Homo sapiens: one gene and its partners. The protein of the gene in region 6 purifies or fractionates together with the protein of the main gene of each other region. This does not show direct contact. Each region holds a gene or a part of one and is shown on either strand. Other genes may lie near its edges.

Region 1 (3,500 bases), on a different chromosome or scaffold from region 6:
CTTCACGTGTAAAATGAGGATATTAACACCTGCCCCAAAAAGCTGTTGAAAGGATTAAGTGAGATGATGCATGTGAAGCACTTTGCAGAGGCTGGCATGTGGAAAGTGCTATCATAATCTTCTGTTTGAAGGGCAGGGAAATATAATACTACTGTCTTCTTCACAATGCCAAAATCTGAAGTGTTCAAATATTTGCAATTTGGAAAAAAAATCAAGATGTGATCTAAAATATGATCATTCATTTTGTCCTACAATATATACCCACTGTTACAGTTACCAATAAGCAGTAGCAATAAAATCCTTTTGTTTCCTGTGGTCACCCTCTAGTGGTGATCCTAAGAAGCTAAAGGAAACATGATATAAAAATACAATAAGGAACCAAAGAATAAGTGTTCAGAATAGATAAAATTATCAAAATAAAAATCAAAGTGAAGATTTTTCTTAGTCCAGGTATACAGGTTTGACTCAAACATAAACAGAAGACATCCAATGCAGAATTTCCTAAAATGCTTAGGGTAAAGTTGTTCCAAAAAGTGAGTTAATGGAAATCTCTAAATTAAGCAAAGCTAAGCATTTTCCCATTCTGTGGGACACCGCAGATCCTTCATAAAGAATGTGATTCTCCAAAAGGAGTCTTTCTCAAATGTCAACCAGCAAATACTTTTTTCAGTAGAATACTATTGCTGTAACAATGGATGAGGGGATAGCTATACTAGAAGTTTATATAACTAATTACATTATTAATAAGGAATTAGGTAACTTAGTATTTATTTAGTCTTAAGTTTTAAAAAATAATTATCGTGCAAATGGCAACATGAAATTAGAGGACACCCAGATAATTATTTTGAAGAAACATAAATCTCAAAATAAAATGCATTTTAATTAAATCTTTAGAAAGAAACTAGTATTCCTGATATTTTACAACCACATTTAATATAAACTTAAATAATCATTTCATAATATTTGTATTAGATTAACAACCAAATAATCATCATATAAAACTAAAGGCATAATATTCACAAAACTTTAAAATGATTTAAAATACTAAAATAGCCAAAATTATTTCTTCATCAGTATCAGAAAAAGAGAATCAACAGTAGGAAAATATTTTTGAATTGCACCTAAAATAGTAAGGGGTGACATACCTGGGATTTCCCCTTAGTGCAGCATGATGCAGAGCATTAAATCCATTATTGTTTGTGATGGTAACATCTGCTCCAGCTTCCAAAAGAACTGCTAGGATATCATCACGTTTCTTACTTATTGCATCATGAAGAGGGGTATCACCTTCAGAATCCTTTAAGTTTAAAGAAATTTTCATTAGTTCTTCAATTAATTATCCCATCTAATAGTAATACTTACACCAAATGCTAAGCAAACAGAAGCAGAGACCACATCCAACAAATACCAATAAAAGAGCACTTTCTGTGATAACTACAAAAATATAGGCAAAGGCTGGGCATGCTGGCTCATGTCTGTAACCCTAGCACTTTGGGAGGCTGAGGCGGGAGGATCAGCAGAGGCCAGGAGTTCAACACCAACCTGGGCAACATATAGAGACCTTGTCCCTACAAAAAATTTTAAAAATTAGCCGGGCACGGCGGTGTGCACCTATAGTCCTAGGTACTCAGGAGGCTGAGGCAGAAGAATGGCTTGAGCCCAGGAGTTCAAGGCTCCAGTGAGCTATGATCATGCCACTGCACTCCAGCCAGGGTGACAGAGCGAGACTCTATCTCCAAAAATATAAAAAACAAAAATACAGGCAAGAAACACTGGCCACATTATAGTAAGGAAAGACATACTCAAATCTAGTTGGAAAACAAAATAAGCATGCTGGAATTTTTTTTTCTTTTTTTTGAGACCAAGTTTCGCTCTTTCACTCAGGCTGGAGTACAATAGCGCGATCTCAGCTCACTGCAACCTCCACTTTCCGGTTTCAAGCGATTCTCCTGCCTCAGCCTCCCAAGTAACTGGGATTACAGGCACCCACCACCATGCCCAGCTAATTTTTGTATTTTTAGTAGAGACGGGGTTTCACCACGTTGGCCAGGCTGGTCTCAGACTCCTGACCTCGTGATCTGCCCACCTCAGCCTCCCACAGTGCTGGGATTACAGGCGTGAGCCACCTTGCCCGGCAAAGTTCTTTTTTTGTAGAGATGGGGGTCTCAGTATGTTGCCCATGCTGGTCTTGAACTCCTGTGCTCAAGTGATCCTCCCACATGAGCCTCTCAAGGTGTTGGGATTACAGGCATAAGCCACCACTCCTGGCACATGCTGAAGCTTTACAAAGCAAAAAGAAAAGAAAAGAAGTAGCCTCAAATATAACTAATGACAAAAACCAGTGAAGTGATAAAGCTGCCCCCCAAATTTTATAAGTTTAAAATGGCCTTAATTGTCATACCCTGAAATTCCATACCAAACCTACACCATAACAATGAATTGAAAGTCGGTGGCTTTCAAACTTGGCTGCTCATTAGAACCTGCTGGGGAGATCTTTTAAAATCTGTTGTACAGAGGAAAAAAAAGAGAAAAAAAAATCTGATGTCCAGGCTGTTCACCATACTAAATCTCTAGAGGTGAGAGTGAGGCATGAGTAATTTTTCAAAGCTCCACAGATGAACATCTTGTGCAGTCACAGGTGAGAAACATTAATCTAAGCGTTTTCAAAGGGCAGCAAAGTGGCTAGTTAGCCAAAGGTAAAACAATTGTAAATTAAAATTTAGCAATCTCAGTCTACCATTTTTTCAAGCTGACTACTTTTTACATTAATCAATTGACTTAGCAGTAAGTTTTTATTCATTAGCAGTCATGTACAGACATGAATAATTTAAATTTCATTCATTTCATAGTTGAACAGATGCTATTCTCAGTAAAGTCATATACAACCTGGCCTACAGCATATACTACAGTTGCCAAATTCAGTTTGCCACTTGTTTTTTGTTTGTTTTATTCTTTTTTACTAGACATATTTCCTGCATGGTTTGTCTCCCCAGTCACTGTCCACAGGATTCTGAGAAGCTACAGGAATATGAAAGTGCAAACACCAGACCCAGCTTCATCTCCAACACTGAGGAAAGGGACTGTACATCATGGGGCAGAGCCCTATGCTCCCCTAAGCCATGTGGACAAAGCCTAGAAAAAATGATATCCCAGGATATTACACATTGGAGCCACCTGTTTTTGTAAATTAAGTTTTATTGGAACACAGCCACACCCATTCATTTATGTATTATCTATGGCTGCTTTCATTCTGCAATGAGAGTTAGATAGTTGTGGCAAAAGCCAATAAGCCACTATTATCTGTGCCCAATATAGAAAATGTTTGCTAATCCCAGGAATATATTCATCCACCTACATAAAGAATTCCTGCTAGGCATGGTGGCTCACACCGGTAATCCCAGGACTTTGGGAGGTGGGAGCAGGAAGATTGCTTGAGACCAGAAGTTTGAGACCAACCTGGGCATTTCTACAAAAAATTAGCCAGGCATGGCAGCTCACAC
Region 2 (3,500 bases), on a different chromosome or scaffold from region 6:
TGTCATTGAAGGATCCTAAGAAAGGAGGACCACGATCTCCCTTATATGGTGAATGTGTTGTTAAGAAGTTAGATGAGAGGTGAGGAGACCAGTTAGAAAGCCAATAAGCATTTCCAGATGAGAGATAATGGTTCTTGAAATCCAATAGTGCCCAGGTCTAAATTGAGATGGGTGAATGAGGAAAATAAGGAAGAGAGAAGAGGCAAGATGGTGCCTAGGTTTGTGATGCCTCTTTCCTGGGTCTCTTGTCTCCACAGGAGGAGCCATGGGGCACTACGTCTTAGCTGAACGTGAGTGACACGCAGCCTGCAGACTCACTGTGGGAAGGAGACAAAACTAGAGACTCAAAGAGGGAGTGCATTTATGAGCTCTTCATGTTTCAGGAGAGAGTTGAACCTAAACATAGAAATTGCCTGACGAACTCCTTGATTTTAGCCTTCTCTGTTCATTTCCTCAAAAAGATTTCCCCATTTAGGTTTCTGAGTTCCTGCATGCCGGTGATCCCTAGCTGTGACCTCTCCCCTGGAACTGTCTCTCATGAACCTCAAGCTGCATCTAGAGGCTTCCTTCATTTCCTCCGTCACCTCAGAGACATACACCTATGTCATTTCATTTCCTATTTTTGGAAGAGGACTCCTTAAATTTGGGGGACTTACATGATTCATTTTAACATCTGAGAAAAGCTTTGAACCCTGGGACGTGGCTAGTCATAACCTTACCAGATTTTTACACATGTATCTATGCATTTTCTGGACCCGTTCAACTTTTCCTTTGAATCCTCTCTCTGTGTTACCCAGTAACTCATCTGTCACCAAGCCTTGGGGATTCTTCCATCTGATTGTGATGTGAGTTGCACAGCTATGAAGGCTGTACACTGCACGAATGGAAGAGGCACCTGTCCCAGAAAAAGCATCATGGCTATCTGTGGGTAGTATGATGGGTGTTTTTAGCAGGTAGGAGGCAAATATCTTGAAAGGGGTTGTGAAGAGGTGTTTTTTCTAATTGGCATGAAGGTGTCATACAGATTTGCAAAGTTTAATGGTGCCTTCATTTGGGATGCTACTCTAGTATTCCAGACCTGAAGAATCACAATAATTTTCTACCTGGTCTCTCCTTGTTCTGATAATGAAAATTATGATAAGGATGATAAAAGCACTTACTTCGTGTCCGACTCTTCTGAGCACCTACTTACATGCATTACTGCATGCACTTCTTACAATAATTCTATGAGATAGGTACTATTATCCCCATTTCTTTTTTAAATGAAGAAAGTGAAGTAGGCCGGGCACGGTGGCTCACGCCTGTAATCCCAGCACTTTGGGAGGCCAAAGCGGGTGGATCACGAGGTCAGGAGATCGAGACCATCCTGGCTAACATGGTGAAACCCCATCTCTAATAAAAATACAAAAAATTAGCTGGGCGTGGTGGCAGACGCCTGTAGTCCCAGCTACTCGGAAGGCTGAGGCAGGAGAATGGCATGAACCCAGGAGGCAGAGCTTGCAGTGAGCCGAGTTTGCGCCACTGCACTCCAGCCTAGGTGACAGAGTGAGACTCCATCTCAAAAAAATAAAAATAAAAATAAAAAAATGAAAAAAAAAAGAAAGTGAAGTATAGAGTATCTCATAGTTTGTCAGTGATAGAAACAGGTTTCAAACTCAGTCAATCTGACCGTTTGATACATCTCAGACACCACTACATTCAGTAGTTTAGATGCCTAGAATAAATAGAGAAGGAAGGAGATGGCTCTTCTCTTGTCTCATTGTGTTTCTTCTGAGTGAGCTTGAATCACATGAAGGGGAACAGCAGAAAACAACCAACTGATCCTCAGCTGTCATGTTTCCTTTAAAAGTCCCTGAAGGAAGGTCCTGGAATGTGACTCCCTTGCTCCTCTGTTGCTCTCTTTGGCATTCATTTCTTTGGACCCTACGCAAGGACTGTAATTGGTGGGGACAGCTAGTGGCCCTGCTGGGCTTCACACACGGTGTCCTCCCTAGGCCAGTGCCTCTGGAGTCAGAACTCTGGTGGTATTTCCCTCAATGAAGTGGAGTAAGCTCTCTCATTTTGAGATGGTATAATGGAAGCCACCAAGTGGCTTAGAGGATGCCCAGGTCCTTCCATGGAGCCACTGGGGTTCCGGTGCACATTAAAAAAAAAATCTAACCAGGACATTCAGGAATTGCTAGATTCTGGGAAATCAGTTCACCATGTTCAAAAGAGTCTTTTTTTTTTTTTTGAGACTCTATTGCCCAGGCTGGAGTGCAATGGCATGATCTCGGCTCACTGTAACCTCTGCCTCCCAGGTTCAAGCGATTCTCCTGTCTCAGCCTCCCAAGTAGCTGGGATTACAGGCGTGCACCACCATGCCCGGCTAATTTTTGTATTTTTAGTAGAGACAGGGTTTCACCATGTTGGCCAGGCTGGTCTCGAACTCTCCTGACCTCGTGATCCGCCTGCCTCGGCCTCCCAAAGTGCTGAGATTACAGGTGTGAGCCACCCTGCCCAGCCGTCAAAAGAGTCTTAATATATATATCCAGATGGCATGTGTTTACTTTATGTTACTACATGCACTTGGCTGCATAAATGTGGTACAAGCATTCTGTCTTGAAGGGCAGGTGCTTCAGGATACCATATACAGCTCAGAAGTTTCTTCTTTAGGCATTAAATTTTAGCAAAGATATCTCATCTCTTCTTTTAAACCATTTTCTTTTTTTGTGGTTAGAAAAGTTATGTAGAAAAAAGTAAATGTGATTTACGCTCATTGTAGAAAAGCTATAAAATGAATACAATTAAAGCTGTTATTTAATTAGCCAGTGAAAAACTATTAACAACTTGTCTATTACCTGTTAGTATTATTGTTGCATTAAAAATGCATATACTTTAATAAATGTATATTGTATTGTATACTGCATGATTTTATTGAAGTTCTTGTTCATCTTGTGTATATACTTAATCGCTTTGTCATTTTGGAGACATTTATTTTGCTTCTAATTTCTTTACATTTTGTCTTACGGAATATTTTCATTCAACTGTGGTAGCCGAATTAATCGTGTTTCTTCACTCTAGGGACATTGTCGTCTAAGTTGTAAGACATTGGTTATTTTACCAGCAAACCATTCTGAAAGCATATGACAAATTATTTCTCTCTTAATATCTTACTATACTGAAAGCAGACTGCTATAAGGCTTCACTTACTCTTCTACCTCATAAGGAATATGTTACAATTAATTTATTAGGTAAGCATTTGTTTTATATTGGTTTTATTTCACCTGGGCTGAGATTTCAAGAAACACCCCAGTCTTCACAGTAACACATTTCACTAACACATTTACTAAACATCAGCAACTGTGGCCTGTTAATTTTTTTAATAGAAATTTTAAGTCCTCATTTTCTTTCGGTGTTTTTTAAGCTTAATTTTTCTGGCTTTATTCATAAATTCTTAAGGTCAACTACATTTGAAAAATCAAAGACCTGCATTTTAAATTCTTATTCACCTCTGGCAA
Region 3 (3,500 bases), on a different chromosome or scaffold from region 6:
GAGGTGAAGGTAAATGGGTAGACTCGAGAAATACTTAGACAAGAGGATTACAGGACTTGACTGGGGACGGTAAGGGAGAAGGGCGACTCCTAGGTTTTCGTGTTGCACAACTAGCTAGTTAAGCAACTCTGGAGGCAGATCAGGTTTGTGCAGGAAGAGCAGGGGTTCAGTTTGGGCATGTTGGGACTGAGATAACTTTCAGATACTCAAGAGATACACGATAAGCAGGTCAGAGGAGAAGTCTGGGCTGGAGACACAAATTTGCAAGTCATTCATATGTAGTGAGAATTAGAGCTGCTGTGGTGGAGGCAACATAGAGCTGAGGAATGAATGTAGACTGAGAGGAGAAGAGGGCCTAGAATTGAGCCTCCAGAAACTCCACTTCTCAAAGGCAGGCCAAGGAGTAAAAGCCTGCCAGGGAGGCGCTGTAATGCTAGGAGAAAAAACCCAGAGAGCAGATTGCTTGGAAGTCAAGTGAAGGATGGCTCAGGAGGGAGGGTGTGGGCGAGAGAACCAGGTCTGCTGAAAGGTCAGGTAAGGTGCAGGCTGACAAAGGCCTATTAGATTTAGAAAAGTGGAGATCACTGGGCCTTGACGAGAGGAGCCTTTGAGGATTAATGAGAGAAGAATCCATATTGGAGCAGACTGAGGCAAGAAATGGGAGGAGAGGAAATGACCACAAATAATAGAGCCGACTCTCCAGAGAAGCCTGGATTTGCAGAGGGAAGAGTGAGGGCAGGAGGCAGATGTGGGGTTGGGGTTGCAGGAGAGCTCTCAACTTGTGAAAAGCAGTTGAGGAAGAGGGTAATCAGTCATATACAGTTCCTGGAAGATGGGATCCAGGGCCCTGTGGAGGGATCAGCCCCACAGGCAGAAGAGGCAGAAGCAGGGAGGAAGAGAGGTGGGTGCCGCAGTAGGCAAGATCTGTCTGGTTTGGGAGGATGAGGGGTTCCATTTTCCCCGTAAAGTAGGAGGCAAAGACATTGCCTGGATTAGTGAACATTGGAAATGTTGGAGGAGAGTGAGGGAATAGATTAGGGAAGAGGTGCGGGAGACCAGCTGGTAAACTGAAGGCCCACCTGAAGTTGGGGATTGTGAATTCATGGTAGATCCAGTCTGCCCAGGCAACTCTTTTCTCCCTCCTTCCAAGGCCACATAAGCTCAATAATTGTTTCCAAGCTATCCTCCTCAATTGCCCGAAACAATGTCTGACAGCACTTCTCCCTTCCACAGACTGTGCTCTTTTGGACCTGCGAGAAATATCCCCACTTTAAAGACTGGCAGGTCTTCAGCAAAGCATTTCTGCGCCTGGTGAGGAAACTGCACAAGTGCGTGAGCCAGCACTTCCTGAAACACTATTTCGTCCGGAACAGCAACCTCTTTCAGTGCACCAACCCGACTGAACTGGACACTGTGGCCCAAAAGCTGGCCACCTTCCTGAAGAACCCCCAGATCGGCCCGCCCTGATGGTTGCCCCGGCCTGGGAGGCTCTTGGACATTTTATTCTGGCTTAACATTGTTCTTTGGATGGTTCCTCAGTCAGGTGCCAGGATCCTGCCTAGGAGAAAGGCCACGAATGGCAGCGGAAATTACATCAAACCAGAAACACTTCAGCAGGGGGAAAACTGTGCCCCAGGATGTCTGGCCCAGGCCTCCCTGGAGCCCAGCAAGCATTTCTGCCCTAGCTAATTCTCCTGGAGACAGCTCTCATCAGGCTTCCCCAGGCACAGATTTGGAACTGGTGACAGTTCTGAACTTAGTTTCCCTTGTTCAGGCTGTGATCGTCTCACAGTGAAGATGGAGACAGAACCCCTGGAAGTCTGGACATGAGCCTGCTGGCCAATACTGTGCCCAGCCCACTGATCATGGGCACATTCTCCTGCCATTTGTAAAATGGGAATGTTAACGTGCCTACCTCTGAGCAGGGCTGTGTGCCTATGAAACTGTGCTGGCGCCTTTTCAAGGGGAAGGCATTGGATCAACACAAAGTGTTCCTGGTTGGTTGAGTAGCTGGTGTTTGCATCCTGGATCGGTACCCACAGCACTGACGCAAAATTGCACCTGATGAGTTAGTGAGCCTGTGCTTCCTTGCTGCCCTCCAGCTTCCTTAGCATGTGGGTCAGTGGCTCCTGATGTTCTGTCTGCTTCGCTGGTATTCTCTAAGCAGGGAGGGGAATGGTTTTGATGATAAGTGTAAGTCAAAGATGAAAGTACAACTCTTGGCCTGATCCCAACCATAGCCCTCTCTTTGCTTCCCATGCCATGGGCCATGGATGGAACTTCCTTATATATTTATGTAAATAACCTAGTACTATGATCTGCATGGAGTGACCTTAGGTGTCTGTCACTGCTCAGTGTGTTCCTTTGCTCACTTCATTCACTCACTCACTCATTGACAAATAATGCTCATTAGGCACCGGGAACACAGCAAAGAGCAAAGTGGATGAGGACCTCCCCCTGGGGATGCCACCTAATGGTGGAGACAAGAAATGAACGACAGATAAACACGCACAGTTATTACAGATGGAAGCAAGTGCTTCAAAGGAAATAAACAGAATGTTGAAGTAGAGTCCACAGAAAGGTCCCCGAAGGATGAAAATGCAAATAGCTGAAGGGGAAGGAAAAGTGACCAAAGGCAGGCATGGTGGGGCTGGCATGAGTCAGAGCACCTGGCCTTGTAAAGCCAGGAAGGAATCAGTATTTTATTCTAAGATCAAAGGTGTGACATTTGGCCTCTCCAGAAGCAGAAGAGTATCACGATCTGACTGCATTTTAAACAATTGTTCTGGTAACTGCATGAAGAAGGTCTGGGGACTCACACAGGAGCTGGGCACTGAGTGCTCTTGAGCCACCCATTTGGAATTTCACAGAGGCCCACAAGGCAACATATTCTGTGTGGCACAACCGATCAGGAATTCTAGGAGTTCTCGGTGAGATCAATGGTTTTTTTCTGGCGTTTATGTAATGCTTCTCAACTCAAGGGGCTCCTTTATTACTTTTGAATGTTTTTGCCCAAATGTCTATACCAAAGATAAATTTCTAAAGCATGAACTACTGATTTTGTTTTCATGAAAATTCACATTTGAAAATGAAAATGATTACTTTTCAAAAGTACTGTAAACGGCAGGAAAGATCCAAAATTGACACCCTAACATCACAATTAAAAGAACTAGAAAAGCAAGAGCAAACACATTCAAAAGCTAGCAGAAGGCAAGAAATAACTAAAATCAGAGCAGAACTGAAGGAAATAGAGACACAAAAAACCCTTCAAAAAATTAATAGATCCAGGAGCTGGTTTTTTGAAAGGATCAACAAAATTGATAGACTGCTAGCAAGACTAATAAAGAAAAAAAGAGAGAAGAATCAAATAGATGCAATAAAAAATGATAAAGGGGATATCACCACCGATCCCACAGAAATACAAACTACCATCAGAGAATACTACAAACTCCTCTACGCAAATAAACTAGAAAATCTAGAAGAAATGGATAAATTCCTCA
Region 4 (3,500 bases), on a different chromosome or scaffold from region 6:
TTAACAATACTGAATCTTCCCATTGAGAGATATTTTATGTCTGTATTCATTCTTTTTAGTAATGTTTTTTAAAGTGTTTTCTTCACGCTGGTTGTGCAGTGGCTTACGCCTGTAATCCCAGCATTTTGGGAGGCCCAGGCTGGGGAATCACTTGAGGTCAGGAGTTCGAGTCCAGCCTGGGCAACATAATGAAATCCTAAAAATGCAAAAAAATTTAGCCGGGTGTGGTGACGCATGCCTATAATCCCTGCTACTTGGGAGGCTGGGGCAGGAGAATTGCTTGAACCTGGGGTGCTGAGGTTTCAGTGAGCTGAGATCGCGCTACTGCACTCCAACCTGGGTGACAGAGCAAGACTCTGTCTCAAAAAAAAAAAAATTTTTTTTCTTCGGATAGGTCTTGAAGTAATCTTGTTGTTGATCTTGTGTCTGTTCATTTTGCTGAAATGTTTTAGCTCCAATTAATTGGTTCTAATGGGGTTTTTAAAAAAATTTTCTTGTGTATTCTAAATAAATAATCTATTTGTCATTTTCACTACAAATGAGTTTTACCATATTCTTTCCAATGTTGTTATGACTTTTCTTAATGGATTGTCAAATATAATCAATACTGAATTGGCTTGGTAATTGTGATCTTCCTTGTTTTGTTGCTGATTTTAATTTATTCTTTTTCTTTTTCTTTCTTTTTTTTTTTTTTTTTTTTTTCTTCAGACGGAGTCTTGCTCTTTTGCCCAGGTTGGAGTACAGTGGCGTGATCCTGGCTCACTGCAACCTCTACCTCCCGGATTCAAGCAATACTTCTGCCTCAGCCTCCTGAGTAGCTGGGATTACAGGCACACAACCACCACACCCAGCTAATTTTCCTATTTTTTGGTAGAGACAGGGTTTCACCGTGTTGGTCAGGGTGGTCTCAAACTCCTGACCTCGTGATCCACCCGCCTCGGCCTCCCAAAGTGCTGGGATTACAGGCGTGAGCCACTGTGCCCAGCCCTGATTTTACTTTATTCTTGATCTTAATAGAAGTTCTTACAATAGGCTGGGCACAGTGGCTCATGCCTGTAATCCCAGAACTTTGGGAGGCCAAGTTGGGTGGATCATTTGAGGTCAGGAGTTCAAGACTGGCCTGGCCAACAAGGTGAAAGCCCATCTCTACCAAAAAATAGGAAAACTAACCAGGCGTGGTGGCGGGTGCCTGTAATCCCGGCTACTGGGGGGCTGAGGAAGGAGAACCGTTTGAACCCGGGAGGTGGAGGTTGCAGTGAGCTGTGATTGTGCCACTGCACTCCAGTCTGGGCCACAGAGCGAGACACCTTCTCAAAAAAAAAAGTTCTTAAAATGTTTTACAATTATTGTATATTAATGACTGTAGGTTTGTGATAGATAATCTAGATTACTTCTTAATTTTTCATGATTCTTCTTATCAGGCATTTTACCAAGATTTTCTTGAATGCTTTTGGTTTGTTTTGAAAATAATCATATGACGTTTATCCTTTAATCTGCTAACAGTAGATTTTCTAATGTAGTTTCCTAATATCAAATCATCCTTGAATTTATACATGATGTTAGTCTATAGTCTTCTTGTTCTGTTGTTGTTCAGTTTCAGCTTTGAAAGTTTACATTACCTTCCCAGAATAAGTTAGGACACTCCTTTTCACTTTTTCTCCCCTAATGTGTTATAACACCTTAAATAACATAAGAATGATCTATCCAATAAAGGCTTCATAGAATTTTCTCAAAAACCTTTCTGAGCCTGGAGCCTTTAGGAGGGATGATATTAGAACTTTCATCACCTTTTCCATTGCTGCTCTGATTTGTCTTTTTTTCTTTCCCTTGAGTTAGTTTAGCTAATTTCAAACTCATTGATATGAAATTGTACGTGGTATTTCTAATGTTATTTATATTAAACATGTTTTCTTTATAACACTTGGAAAGGTATATTTCATGGTTTCTCCAGCTTTCCTGAGTAAAAAAATCATATGCATTTGTTAAAAATGCAGATCCCCAGGTTCTTCCCTAGAGATTTCCCCTAGAGATTCAGTAAGTCTAGGATGAGGACTTAGATACTATATTTTCAGTAAGTTCTGGAGTCTTATCAGGTGCATTAGGAAATTCTGATCTTTTTTTTGGGTCTTTTGACCAAAATTCATTTTCTTCTACTTACTTTTTTTTTTTTTTTCTGTATCTGGAATGAATTCTAAGCTCTTTTGTTACCATTCTTTCTTACATCTTTAGGTACTTCTTTGGCCATGTCCAGTAGCATTTAATCTGAGTGTTTTCTTTTTGTCATTAATTCTCCTAAAATTTGTGATTATGTCTCCCTCTGCCATTTCCATTAGAACTTTGATATATGGTCTTCCAGTAGGTTTTGTTCTGTAATCTATTCACCCTTACAGTTTTAATTTGACTCATTTTTATAGTGACACGTAGTCGAACTAGATCAATCACACTTAAAATGAAAATTAGGAAAACTGTGTCACTGGATTGCAGTACTGGGTTATTTCTTGAAAAAGTGTAGAATGGGTTCTTGCAACCCCTATAGTACTATCTTAAGAACTGATGCCATCATACAGTTCCTACTATTGGCAAAACAGTTCGTTTGATGTTAGCTACCACTTACACAAGGGAAGGGCGATTGAAAGGGATCATTTTTCAGAGTTTAGATGGCCCATACAGACTTCCTCTCAGAATTGATGATTTGGAGGGAAAACACTGGTTATCTTAATGCTGGTTCCTCTCTCCTTAAGGTTGTTATTATTATACATACTTAAATTTTTATCATTTACATATTCATCCCTGAAATTTTGAGCAACAAAAATAAAATCTCCATTTTATTTTATGTTACATATTTTGAAAATATTACTTTGTCTGCTGTTTGGAGAATGGATTGTAGTTGCTTAGTCTGGATTAGGCTCTGAATAAGTGTAGTCAATTGATTAGGTAATTGATTGCTTTATCATTACTTGATAGATGATTTTATTAATTTTCCCTTCTCAGTTAATGGAGAATCATCCTCATTTGCACCAACTGATAATGCGTCTGTCACGGGTACTCCAGTAGTGTCTGAAGAAAATGCCTTGTCTCCAAATTGCACTAGTACTACTGTTGAAGATCCTCCAGTTCAAGAAATACTGACTTCCTCAGAAAACAATGAATGTATTCCTTCTACCAGTGCAGAATTGGAATCTGAAGCTAGAAGTATATTAGAGCCTGACACCTCTAATTCTAGAAGTAGTTCTGCTTTTGAAGCAGCCAAATCAAGACAGCCAGATGGGTGTATGGATCCTGTACGGCAGCAGTCTGGGAATGCCAACACAGAAACCTTGCCATCAGGGTATGTTAAGCTTTTTAATGTCTGACTTGCATTTAAGTAGCAACTCTGTTAACATACGATTATTGAATGTGTGCATAAAATGTTTTCATTGTTCAGAACTTTGAAATCTAAGTTGGGATCTGAATCATACTATTTATTTACTTGCTACAAAACAAGTACTTTTTGAAACTAA
Region 5 (3,500 bases), on a different chromosome or scaffold from region 6:
TGGGAGGCTGAGGCAGGAGGATCACTTTAGTCCAGGAGTTCAAGACCAGCCTGGGCAACATACTGAGACTCTCACTGCAAAAAATATAAATTAGCTGGGCATGGTGACACACACCTGTAGTCCCAGCTGCTTGGGAATCTGAGGTGGGAGAATTGCTTGAGCCCAGGAGGTCAGTGCTTCAGTGAGCTGTTACTGTGCTACCGCACTCCAGCCTGGGCGATAGAGGAAGACTCTCTCAAAAAAAAAAAAAAAACCAGAGTCATAAGAATGTGTACCTATTTAACACAATTGTGTGTTAATTGGGTTTAAGAAAATCCTCATTGCAGTTTTATTTGGAGGCAGGATGTAACAGATGAAACAGATAAAGAATGATAATAAGATAGCTTATAACAGTGTTTTACCACAGTCTTCACTGAAAGCCCGTGAAAGCATTTCACACATGAGGCAACAAAGGTACAGAAAGGGTAAGATTCTTGACTGAGATTATACAGCAGGTATGTGCCAACACAAAATATAAAAAGTAAACTTGCATTTTCCACAGACTTAGAGCAGTAGAAAATTAAGGAAGAGGTTAATATAAGCTGGAATCATTAAGAAAAACTTCATTCTTGGTGGTGGTAGTGGAAGGAACTGTGATAGGAAAGGAAATACACTTGCTACAAAAGGTATTAAGCCTATTTGTAGCAGTGGTTTCTCCCCCTCCTACCACCAATCCCAAATATGATAATACACAGGTTCAGAAGGGGACATTACAGGTTCTTGAGTAGGGGCCTAAAGTGATACTGTGTTTAAAGAAATGAGTGTGGCAATGTCATGAATAATAAATTGGGGAGGAGGGATAGGGTGGAGCAGAAGATCTTTGAGTAGCAAGACCTTTTGCAATAATTCAGATACAAAAAATGAAAGTCTATTCCACCACGGTAAATGGACTTGAAGGAACAGAGCTCCAGTATATTTTCCAGAAAGTGCTGGAAAATTTAGTAAATGATTAAATATTAAAGAGAAGGAATCAAAGGTCACTGATAGTGTTTTTGAGTCTGGCCAGGAAGGTGATGGTTCTTTCCAGAAAGTGGGAAGTTAAGCAGGTTTACATTAATCTTTTGGTTTGAGGCTTATTAAAAAAAATTTTTTTTAGTGTGTAATATATTAGCCCAGTTAAAAATTCAAAAGGTATTTATTGAAGTCTCTTTCCCACGCCAGATTCTGTCCGTACAGTTTCCCTTGCTAGAGGCCACTGACATCACCAGTTTCTTATATATCTTGCTGGAGGTATGCATATGTAAGCAAATATGCATACAATTGTATGTATTTTTTCCCTTTTATTGGTATAACTGGTAGCATACTGTATACTGTTTTGTGCTTTGCTTTTTTTTTCTTTTCCATCCGGGCTTTGAAGTTACATACAGTAAAATAAATGGAAAGAGTTTTTTTGTTTTTTTTGTTTTTTTTTTTTTTGAGACACAGTCTTGCTTTGTTGCCGAGGCTGGAGTGCAGTGGCGTGATCATGGCTTACTGCAGCTTTAACTTCCTGCGCTCAGGCTCCCACCTCAGCCTCCTGAGTAGCTGGGACTGTAGGTGTGCACACCATGCCTGGCTAATTTTTTGTAGATATGGGATTATGCCATGTTGCTCAGGCTGGTCTTGAACTCCTGAGCTCAAGCAGCCCACCTATCTTGGCCTTCCAAAGTGCTGGGAATACAGACATGAGTCGTCACACCCAGCCCATGAAAAGGTCTTAAAATGAACATCTGGGAATAGAGATAGGGTGAGACTTTCCGGCAGGAGATTCTAATTTAAGAATCATAAAAGGCCTAGCATGCCAGTAGTAGTCCCAGCTTTTCGGGGCTGAGGCAGGAGGATCACTTGAGACCAGGAGTTTGAGGCTATAGTTCGTGATGATCACACCTGTGAATAGCCAACTGCACTCCAGCCTTTTAAAAAAAAAAATCAGATGAATTATGAATTTTTAGCTACAAGGTAACCTCCTTTGAGGTAATAGCTATAAATTGAGAAAAGAACAGAGCTCAAGACTGAGTCTTGTTGATCTGACCACATATATTCATTCATCCAGAAATACCTCATCGAGTGCTGCTTCTGGCTGGTCACTATCTTTTCGTTTGGAATTTTTTTGGAGGCAGGGCGGTGGTTTTGAGATGAGACTGTCTCCCAGCCAAAAGCACGGTGGCATGATTAAGTCTCACGCAGCCTTGACCTCCTAGGTGCGATCCTCCCACCTCAGCCTTCTGAGTAGCTGGGACTGCAGGCGCATACCACCATACCTGGCTAATTTTTTTAATGTTTAGTAGAGATGAGGTCTCACTATGATGCCCAGGCTGGTTTCAAACTCCTGCGCTTAACAATTCTCCCTCTTTGGGCTCCAAAAGTGCTGGGATTACAGGCATGAGCCTCCATATCCAGCCAAGTTGGGATTTTTAAAGTAAGCTTTTGAAGAGTTTATGCAAAGTGATGACATGATCCAAAATACTTAATAGTATCAATCTGTGGAATTGAAGAGAAGCAATAAGTGGGAAACTCATTGGGAGATTGCTGCATAGTCCAAGCAAAAGATAATGTTGGATTGGATTGAGGTGATAGAGATGGACAGAGATGGATGGATTTTGTGATCTTTATTGAAGGTAGAATTGACAGGGCATGTGATGGATCAGTTATTGGTAATCAGGAAGAAGAAAGATCAGTAACCGTTGACTGTTTCCCAGGGTCAGTCCTCAGCATTGGAAAAGAACTCTAAATATAAACCCCATTTAGTTTCTGGTATTTTGACAAGATCAGAGAAAAGAATTTAAAGTTAAGAATGAGGGGCTGGGTGCAGTGGCTCCCACCTGTAATCCCAGCACTTTGGGAGCCCAAGGCTGGCAGATCACCTGAGGTCGGGGGTTCAAGACCAGCCTGGCCAACATGGTGAAACCCTGTCTCTACTAAAAATACAAAAATTAATCCGGTGTGGTGGCACACGCCTGTAATCCCAGCTACTCAGGAGGCTGAGGCAGGAGAATCACTTGAACCCAGAGGTGGAGGTTGCAGTGAGCCAAGATTGCACCACTGCATTCCAACCTGGGCAACAGAGTGAGACTCTGTATCAAAAAAAAGAAGAGCAAAAGAAAGTGATGATGAAAAGGTGCTCAGTTACCTTAATTCAGATTTCGTTGTTTACCTGGACCTTCTCTTTCAATGTTTACCTGGACCAAACATTGATTGTAGCCAAAATGGAAAAGGCATTGGATGGCTGGATAAAGGGTTTTGGATTTCATTCTGTTAGTAATATCCATTGACCTGACTGTAGATAGTACTATCTATAGATCTAGTCACCAGAAGGACCAAGGCATGGTTAGAAGATTGCGGCTTTGAACCCCATCCGCCATCCTCCAGAAGGGGAGAGGGGCTGAGGGTTTATTAATCACCAGTCGCCAGTGATTTACTTAATTATACCTGTTTAATGAAGCCTCCATAAAAGCCCATTAGGACTGGGTTTGGAGAGCTCC
Region 6 (3,500 bases):
CAGCAAGGAAACTCAGCTGAGAACAGGGGCCTCCTCCACCTTGTGCCCTTCTCCACTTGGAGTCTTCATGGCTAGAGGGGTCCAGGTGCACCTCTGAGGTTCTCCCTCCACTGCTTTCCTGGGTGGCTCCGAGGTGTGGTTAAATTGGGGGTGGGCACCCATGTCCCAGATGAAGACCCTGAGACCTCAAGAACTGGTAATACCCCTGGCGAGGGTCCCTCCCTGCTGTAGCCTGGGGTGGTCTGCGAGTCCCTTAGAGATGAGGCTTCCTCTCTCCCCATCTCTGGCCTTTGGAGAAAAATGAAGCCTCCAACAGTGACAGAAGGTGGCAGTGATGTAGAAAAAAATTTGGCCTAGGAATGGGAGTCCCGGGTTGTGATGCAAGCTGCTCTCCAGACCATTCCCTCTCCCCCTGTGTCTGTGCAGGGAGAGGGTGGACGAGGCGTGCTGGGGTTCCCTTGGCTCCAGTCTGCAAGAGCTGAGCTCCCACCAGGCACTTAGCAGCTGGTTATCCCTTCTGCTGCCGCCCCCGCCCCTTCCCCTCGCCCCCGCCGCCGGCCACCCGCCCGAAATAGAAAAGGAAAGGAAGTTATTTCCATAGTCAGCGGCAGCCCGGAAAAGCTCCCCTCCAGTGAGGGGGCGGGCGGGATTCCTAGAGCTGAAGACCAAATCAAAGCCAGGCCCGAGAGCTAGAGCAGCCCCCACCGCCCGGCCCTCGGCTGCCTTCTCAGTGTGCCGTTTTCCTGATTCAGCGGAACACGTGTCCTGCGGTTGCCACGCTGCAGGCTGCCATGGAGCTGTGGGGACCTCCTGGCCGGGCTCCGAGCTGCCCTCAGGCCCAGGGCGGTAGGGCGGGAGCCTGGGGGTCAGGGAGGGTGTGTGCCACCCCCTCTTCCTCTACTGCCTTGCCCAGCTGTTGGCTCTGCCATGGCACAGAGCTCCTGCCACACACACAACGGGCCTGGAAAGAGCGGCCCCAGAGCACCCTGAGAGCGAGATCCCTTCCACACTCACATCTCCACGCACGTTTTCAGAACATTGCTCAGGACACGGCCTCCTGAGGGGCTCCCCAGCACCTGGGCAGGGAGGCAGCAGTTTCTAGATAAGGAAACCGAGCCCTAGAGGGAACAGGGGCCCACCTAAGACTACCCTGCCGGCTGGTGGTTGAGCCAGAACTGGAGCTCAGATCTGCTTTACCCTCTGTAGGGATCCTGGCGTCCCCATATGCCCCTTCCTCAGCAAACCAGCATGCAGCAGGCTGTGCTGTTGGTGGCTTATGTGTCTGTTCCTTTGGACCATACCTGTCACTCAGCACCATGAGCCTGGCACTGTGTAGGTGCTAGGATAGAAGCATGAAAGGATGCGATCCCTGCTGTCTTTAGGGGACATTTGTAAACATCTATGGCTAAATCCACAGAGTTCCACATGTGCACCGTGGACAGACAGCTCTGTAGGTCCAGAGACCTGGAAGGGCACTGAGTGACTGGAGAGCATGAATGGCTGGGGAGTTCGCTGAGGCTGGTGGAGACATCTCCAGTGATGAGACAGAGTGACGGGCCTTTGTTCTGGAGGCAGTGGAGGCCATGGGAATCTCTGAGCAGGATCCGACCTGCCTGAGGACCTGGTGTGATGGGGCCAGGAGACCTGGGGTTGGGCTTAATGACTTCCTCTTCCCTGTCACCTGCCATCCCCTAGTATCGACGCGCTGGGCTCTGGAGCCCCTACAAGCCAGAGACGCTATCGGAACTGGAACCCACCACTGCTGGGCAACCTTCCGGATGACTTTCTCCGCATCCTGCCCCAGCAGCTGGACAGCATACAGGTAACAGGGGCCGCCCCCGCCTTCCACTCCCACCTGCTTGTCCAGCATCTCTCTTTGCCCACACAATTTGTGCCAGCCAGTTTTACTTCCTGATGTTTAAACCCAGGCTGAGCTATTTCTGTTGCCCTGGGTTCGTAGGGCAGGAATGCTGAACTGAAAGCCTCACTTCCTGCCTGGGCCTGGAGGTTTCCTGTTCTATCCAGGGAAGGTGACAGCCTAAGGAGGCTGTCTGCTGCAGCAGTCACCTCAGGCTGGAGAGAGGCGGGCATGGGGTGGCCAATGGTGGAGGGCCAGAGCACCCCCCTTCCTCCCTTGGGAAAGGGCCAGAGGCTGCTTCTTGCTAGATGTTGGCATGCCCCAAGGTGCCCCACAGCGGGGCAGGTCCACCCTGAGGCTGCTGGTGCAGGGAGAGGGTTGAGTTTGGGAATTGACGTATAGGCTGTTCCACAGTCTGCAGATTTGTTTTCAGGACTGTTCAGGTTGTAGATGAAGGTATGAGGTGGTCTGTGGCGTGGGGGAAAAATAGTTTTTAGGCTACTGCTGTGTCCCCTGCAGCAATGGCTCTGACCTGTCCGTTGGATTTTGGCTCGCAACCAGGTTCCATTAGGAGGTGTGAGCCTCAGGTGAGGGCTGGAGGATGTTGGACAGGGCATGTGTGCAACCAGAGGGATGTGGACGTTTGTGCAACATGTACCCTTGTGTGTACACATTCAACATGCTCGCTTCCCTCCTCAGGGTAACGCTGGGGGCCCCAAGCCTGGGAGTGGAGAGGGATGTCCACCTGCCATGGCTGGGCCAGGGCCCGGAGACCAGGAGAGCCGCTGGAAGCAGTACCTGGAGGACGAGAGGATCGCGCTTTTCCTGCAGAACGAGGAGTTCATGAAGGAGCTGCAACGGAACCGCGACTTCCTCCTCGCTCTGGAGAGAGGTGGGCAGCGCCTGCAGCCACTTCTCCCTGGCTGAAGAAGGGAGGTGATGCTGGCTTTAGCCTTGGGGCTCAGGAAAACACTGAGCTGGGGGCTGAGGGGGCCAGGTGCTTTCTGTCCTATTGAGGCATGACTCCCACCAAGTTATCCCATGGGAGCCTCAGAATTCTGCCTATGGGGACCTGGGTCACTAGCCCACCCCTTTCTCCCTCGGGACTCAGAGGAAGAAGGATGTGCACTCTTAGGCCTTCTTCCCTTTGCACACCTGCTCTGTGCCAGGCACTGGCCTTGGCACAAGGCAGCAGGGAGAAGAGCACTGCCCCTCCTCACAGAGCCCCAGCCCCAAGGCAGGCGTGATGTGTCTGGAGCTCCGGAAACAGAACGACTGGGTTCATGAAGGCCAGGGCGGGGGAGGCTCTTGAGTGGAAGACTTTAGAGCAGGGGCTCTGGAACTTTGCAGGTATTTGGGTTGTCTCTGGGTTGGAGACCCTGCTCCCTAGCCTGGCTGCCTTTCCCCTGCAGGGTGGGAGTGCGTTTGGGGTAGAGGAGACGAGAGGGCTGTGGAGCTCTGTCCCTGTGACGGCCACAGCGTGAGAGCTTGTGTGTGTAACTGATGGTGTGTTGGTGGGGGAGGAGCAAGTTGTGGAGGGAGAAGGCTGGGCTGAGGCCCAAGGTTAGCCCCAGCTCTGCAGCAAAGGTGCTAGAAGCCTCAAGGCTTTTCCGTTTATTTTTTATTTTTTGAGACATAGTCT
Region 7 (3,500 bases), on a different chromosome or scaffold from region 6:
CCAGGTTAATTACCACATTAAGTTAAATGCAGTATCCATAATAGTAATGTCACTCATTAATGATTGTGTCATTTTGAATAGGCCTTAATTAGTAATTACAGATTTTTGTGGTGGTTTATCGTGTTTTGTAATATGTTAGAGTACACTGGATTTGCTGAACTCTGGTAATTTAGAACTCTGAGCCATACAAAGAGAAGTTCTGTACTCTAAAAAGTATTTAATCTAACTGTATGCATAACTCCAATATTTTGCCTGAACAGATTTAGTCATTGTGGAAGTCCCGATTTCTGTCCTGTGGGCATGATTATTTGCATTACAAAAGGCTTCACCAAAATTTTTCATTGGGGAATAGGTGCATTTCAATATGATTTTGTATTCATAATGTTCAAGGAAAGGAAATGCTTTATTGAATCTAATTGATTTTTGCTTCTTGTTTTTTTTTTTCCCCTATTATTCTTCAGGTTTTTTTGCCCACCTCCTTGTGTATATCTTATGGGCAGTGGATGGAAGAAAAAAAAAGAACAAATGGAACGCGATGGTTGTTCTGAACAAGAGTCTCAACCGTGTGCATTTATTGGGATAGGAAATAGTGACCAAGAAATGCAGCAGCTAAACTTGGAAGGAAAGGTAAATCAAGACTGCTAGTTCACCAGAAAGGGGCACCATGGTACCAGAATGTAGTTTTCATATTCATTTTTGTGGTGGAGATTTTTTTCTTTAATAACTATTGGTAACAATTTCTTGAATATATAAACTAGGACCAAAAAACATGCCTCTCATAGCTTTGGTCTAGTCACTCATGAAGCTTACGCTGCTGACATTGGAAGGTGGCATGCAGTAAGCTTCCCCAGCTTGCAAGCAGTTTTAGCAGACTATAAATCAGATTTCTATTGGAAGCCAGTAATAAATTTAGGAGGCTGATTGCTCATCTTCTGTTTGACAGAGGTTTATCAACAAAAATACATTGTTCAGTAATGTTTTACTCTGCTATTTTAATCTTAGTTTTATACTAGACACGATGATATATACATTGTGGAAAGCATTTATCTGGGTTATAACGATCATAAACGTTTACTTGACATCAGAGTGAAGCAGAGTGATACTGTAGACAAGAACAGCCACAGTTGGCTTTACTCAAATTTTAGTGCGTGGCAGGGGTTCTTCAATTAATTTTCTAGAGAAAACAATCTATCAGCTAGTTTTACTGATTATATTGTATGAATTTAGAAAGCAGTCAATCTAGATCTTTTTTTTTCTTCCCCCGGGACAGGGTTTTTACTCTGTCACCCATGCAGAAATGCAATAGTGCAATCTTGGCTGACTGCAACCTCCACCTCACAAGTAGCGGGACCATAGGTGTGTGTCACTATGTCCAGCTAACTTTTTTGTATTTTTTTGTAGAGATGGGGTTTCGCCATGTTACCTAGGCTGGTCTTGAACTCCTGAGCTCAAGCAATCCATCCACCTCAGCCTCCCAAAGTGCTGGGATTACGGGTGTGTGCCACCGTGTCCAGCCAATCTATACTTTTAGTATTGAAAGATAGTTTTTTATTCACTTAGAATTTAGCTATGGTTTTATTTTTCCTTGCTACTGTACTTTGGAAAATGGTTAGTTCTGATCTCAATGACTAAACATCTTCTAAAATAGCGCATAAACAGCTGTTTCATTATTTGATACATCCTTGTTGAATATTTTAGTGTTTGCTATGTTGTAGTTGGCACTAGGTATATGGGTTGGGAGTAGTGTTGGTGGAGGTGAGCTAGGGGATTTGTACTCTCAAATTGAATTTTAGTGATTTTACAGATAGTACTACAGGTCTTAATGTCAACCTCCTTCAAATTTAGCTGTTTGTATGTCATTTATATCTTTATAGTTTTTGTAAGTAAGATTTGTTGACTATGTATTTTAAATTAGATTTGGGATAATACTTATTACAATAAAGATTGTTTCATCTTAAACCACTAAAACTATTTCTAAATTATGATCCCTGAGCTAAAGTAACGAATATATTTAAGTGGTGGGTTGATCTAATAGATCTTAAGTCTTGTCTCATCTGTTTTCTTGTTACCTAGGAAGTCTCAGAGTTATATGTCTCCAGGCTTCACATGTAGACATTCAGTACTATGAATGAGTGGATCAGATAGGTAGTGAGAAGCCAGGGATTCTAGCTACCTGTGTGTATAACTGTTTAATCCTACTTCATTGCTCATTTTAACCAGTTCCAGCTTCCAGTAATTTTAAATGAGGTGATACCAAATAAACCAACCAGTAGTATCACTGCTTGCCTTTCGCAGCATTGTGGCTTAGTAGTGCCACATCCTAATTTTGTACCTTTAGGGGCTGCCTCAACATGGAGATCTTTCTGCTGTTTTTCATTATATCTTTCTTCAACTTCCACTAGTATACCCTTTCCCCAAGGCCTAGAAACTGGCAGAAGAGGAATAGAATACCTGAGAGCTTGAGCATTTAACTAGTATTTAAAATACCTAGTAATAGGTTAGTACAATGTCTGTAAGCCAAAATTATATGTTAATATTTAATTTTAAGGAAAAATTCTATTAGGGAAGTTTATGTAAAGCAAGACTGGTGAGAGTTAGTAGAAGGCATCCCAGGCAGAAAAAAAAACAATATAATCATGTGCTTAGAGCATAAAGGTATAAGAACATGGTTTTGACCAAGGTAGGCAAAGATGTCCTGAGCAGCGGATTCTGAGCTTCAGTGAGAGGCACTTTGCTCTTGTCTGCCTCACTTAAACTCCATTCGTGTAAGGAAATAGTCTGTTCATTGAGTGGTACAATTAGTTATTGAGAAATATGGGATATTCATTTTGCAATTTTTGGTGTTTATACTTATTTTAAATATTCACTGCAACAAAATTCTAGTATATCTAGCCCTTTAAATTTATGGTCATGACATTTGGCTGTATGTAGGTAATATGTTGGATCTTAGATTTTGTGTAATGTTTTTAATTTGTTAAAAAAATTTACATTTTTTATAGTCACAGCTAGGTAAGCTACGCAACAAGGATGACTTAGTTAACACTCTTGTGTTTTTCTTATTTTTAAACATCATATACTCTTGGTAACATTTTGTTTCTATAATTTAAACATTTCTGCAGTATCACTTTGCAGCATTAGATTTGGTATTTCTTCTTTCTTTCAGGGAAATGTCTTTTATTGCCTAAAGATCTTGTTTTCAAAGAGTATTTCTAGAGAGATGATTATATGCCATTTTCTCTTCTAGAATTCCGTTAGCTAATTTAACCTTTTGCAATAGCAAGGCAAATGTAATTTTAGTTTTATTTGCTTATTTTCTATGAGTCAGTGACTTTTTCCTTCTTTTCTTAATGGAATTTGAGTAGTTTGTGGTCAGTGGCCTTATAGTTTTTTAAAACTAATAGTTCCCATAAAATTATCTTGATTATGATTTTTGTGGATTCAAACTACTCATTGTAATTAGGGATATATTTCCTTTCTTTCCAAGGAGATATATGTGTGTT

The links.
Region 1: the proteins of CUEDC1 (region 6) and MIB1 purify together in Homo sapiens (co-immunoprecipitation; one large-scale study listed by IntAct). This does not show direct contact.
Region 2: the proteins of CUEDC1 (region 6) and HFE purify together in Homo sapiens (co-immunoprecipitation; one large-scale study listed by IntAct). This does not show direct contact.
Region 3: the proteins of CUEDC1 (region 6) and MAB21L3 purify together in Homo sapiens (co-immunoprecipitation; one large-scale study listed by IntAct). This does not show direct contact.
Region 4: the proteins of CUEDC1 (region 6) and WWP1 purify together in Homo sapiens (co-immunoprecipitation; 2 studies listed by BioGRID and IntAct, with this or other methods). This does not show direct contact.
Region 5: the proteins of CUEDC1 (region 6) and PPP4R3B purify together in Homo sapiens (affinity purification with mass spectrometry; one large-scale study listed by BioGRID and IntAct). This does not show direct contact.
Region 7: the proteins of CUEDC1 (region 6) and RBPJ purify together in Homo sapiens (affinity purification with mass spectrometry; one large-scale study listed by BioGRID and IntAct). This does not show direct contact.

The regions. Positions count from the first base shown.
Region 1 is NC_000018.10:21,817,292-21,820,791, reverse strand, and holds part of MIB1 (E3 ubiquitin-protein ligase MIB1), read right to left. Parts: intron 3,169-3,500; exon of another isoform or gene 2,964-3,168; intron 1,298-2,963; coding exon 1,146-1,297; intron 1-1,145. UniProt on the Homo sapiens protein: E3 ubiquitin-protein ligase that mediates ubiquitination of Delta receptors, which act as ligands of Notch proteins.
Region 2 is NC_000006.12:26,093,929-26,097,428, forward strand, and holds part of HFE (hereditary hemochromatosis protein isoform 1 precursor), read left to right. Parts: intron 1-257; coding exon 258-298; 3' UTR 299-475; coding exon of another isoform or gene 476-483; 3' UTR 484-3,500. UniProt on the Homo sapiens protein: Binds to transferrin receptor (TFR) and reduces its affinity for iron-loaded transferrin.
Region 3 is NC_000001.11:116,131,899-116,135,398, forward strand, and holds part of MAB21L3 (protein mab-21-like 3), read left to right. Parts: intron 1-1,233; coding exon 1,234-1,467; 3' UTR 1,468-3,500.
Region 4 is NC_000008.11:86,408,547-86,412,046, forward strand, and holds part of WWP1 (NEDD4-like E3 ubiquitin-protein ligase WWP1), read left to right. Parts: intron 1-2,991; coding exon 2,992-3,328; intron 3,329-3,500. UniProt on the Homo sapiens protein: E3 ubiquitin-protein ligase which accepts ubiquitin from an E2 ubiquitin-conjugating enzyme in the form of a thioester and then directly transfers the ubiquitin to targeted substrates.
Region 5 is NC_000002.12:55,607,623-55,611,122, reverse strand, and holds part of PPP4R3B (serine/threonine-protein phosphatase 4 regulatory subunit 3B), read left to right. Parts: intron 1-3,500. UniProt on the Homo sapiens protein: Regulatory subunit of serine/threonine-protein phosphatase 4 (PP4). May regulate the activity of PPP4C at centrosomal microtubule organizing centers.
Region 6 is NC_000017.11:57,871,913-57,875,412, reverse strand, and holds part of CUEDC1 (CUE domain-containing protein 1), read left to right. Parts: intron 1-1,695; coding exon 1,696-1,822; intron 1,823-2,557; coding exon 2,558-2,750; intron 2,751-3,500.
Region 7 is NC_000004.12:26,415,014-26,418,513, forward strand, and holds part of RBPJ (recombining binding protein suppressor of hairless), read left to right. Parts: intron 1-461; coding exon 462-627; intron 628-3,500. UniProt on the Homo sapiens protein: Transcriptional regulator that plays a central role in Notch signaling, a signaling pathway involved in cell-cell communication that regulates a broad spectrum of cell-fate determinations.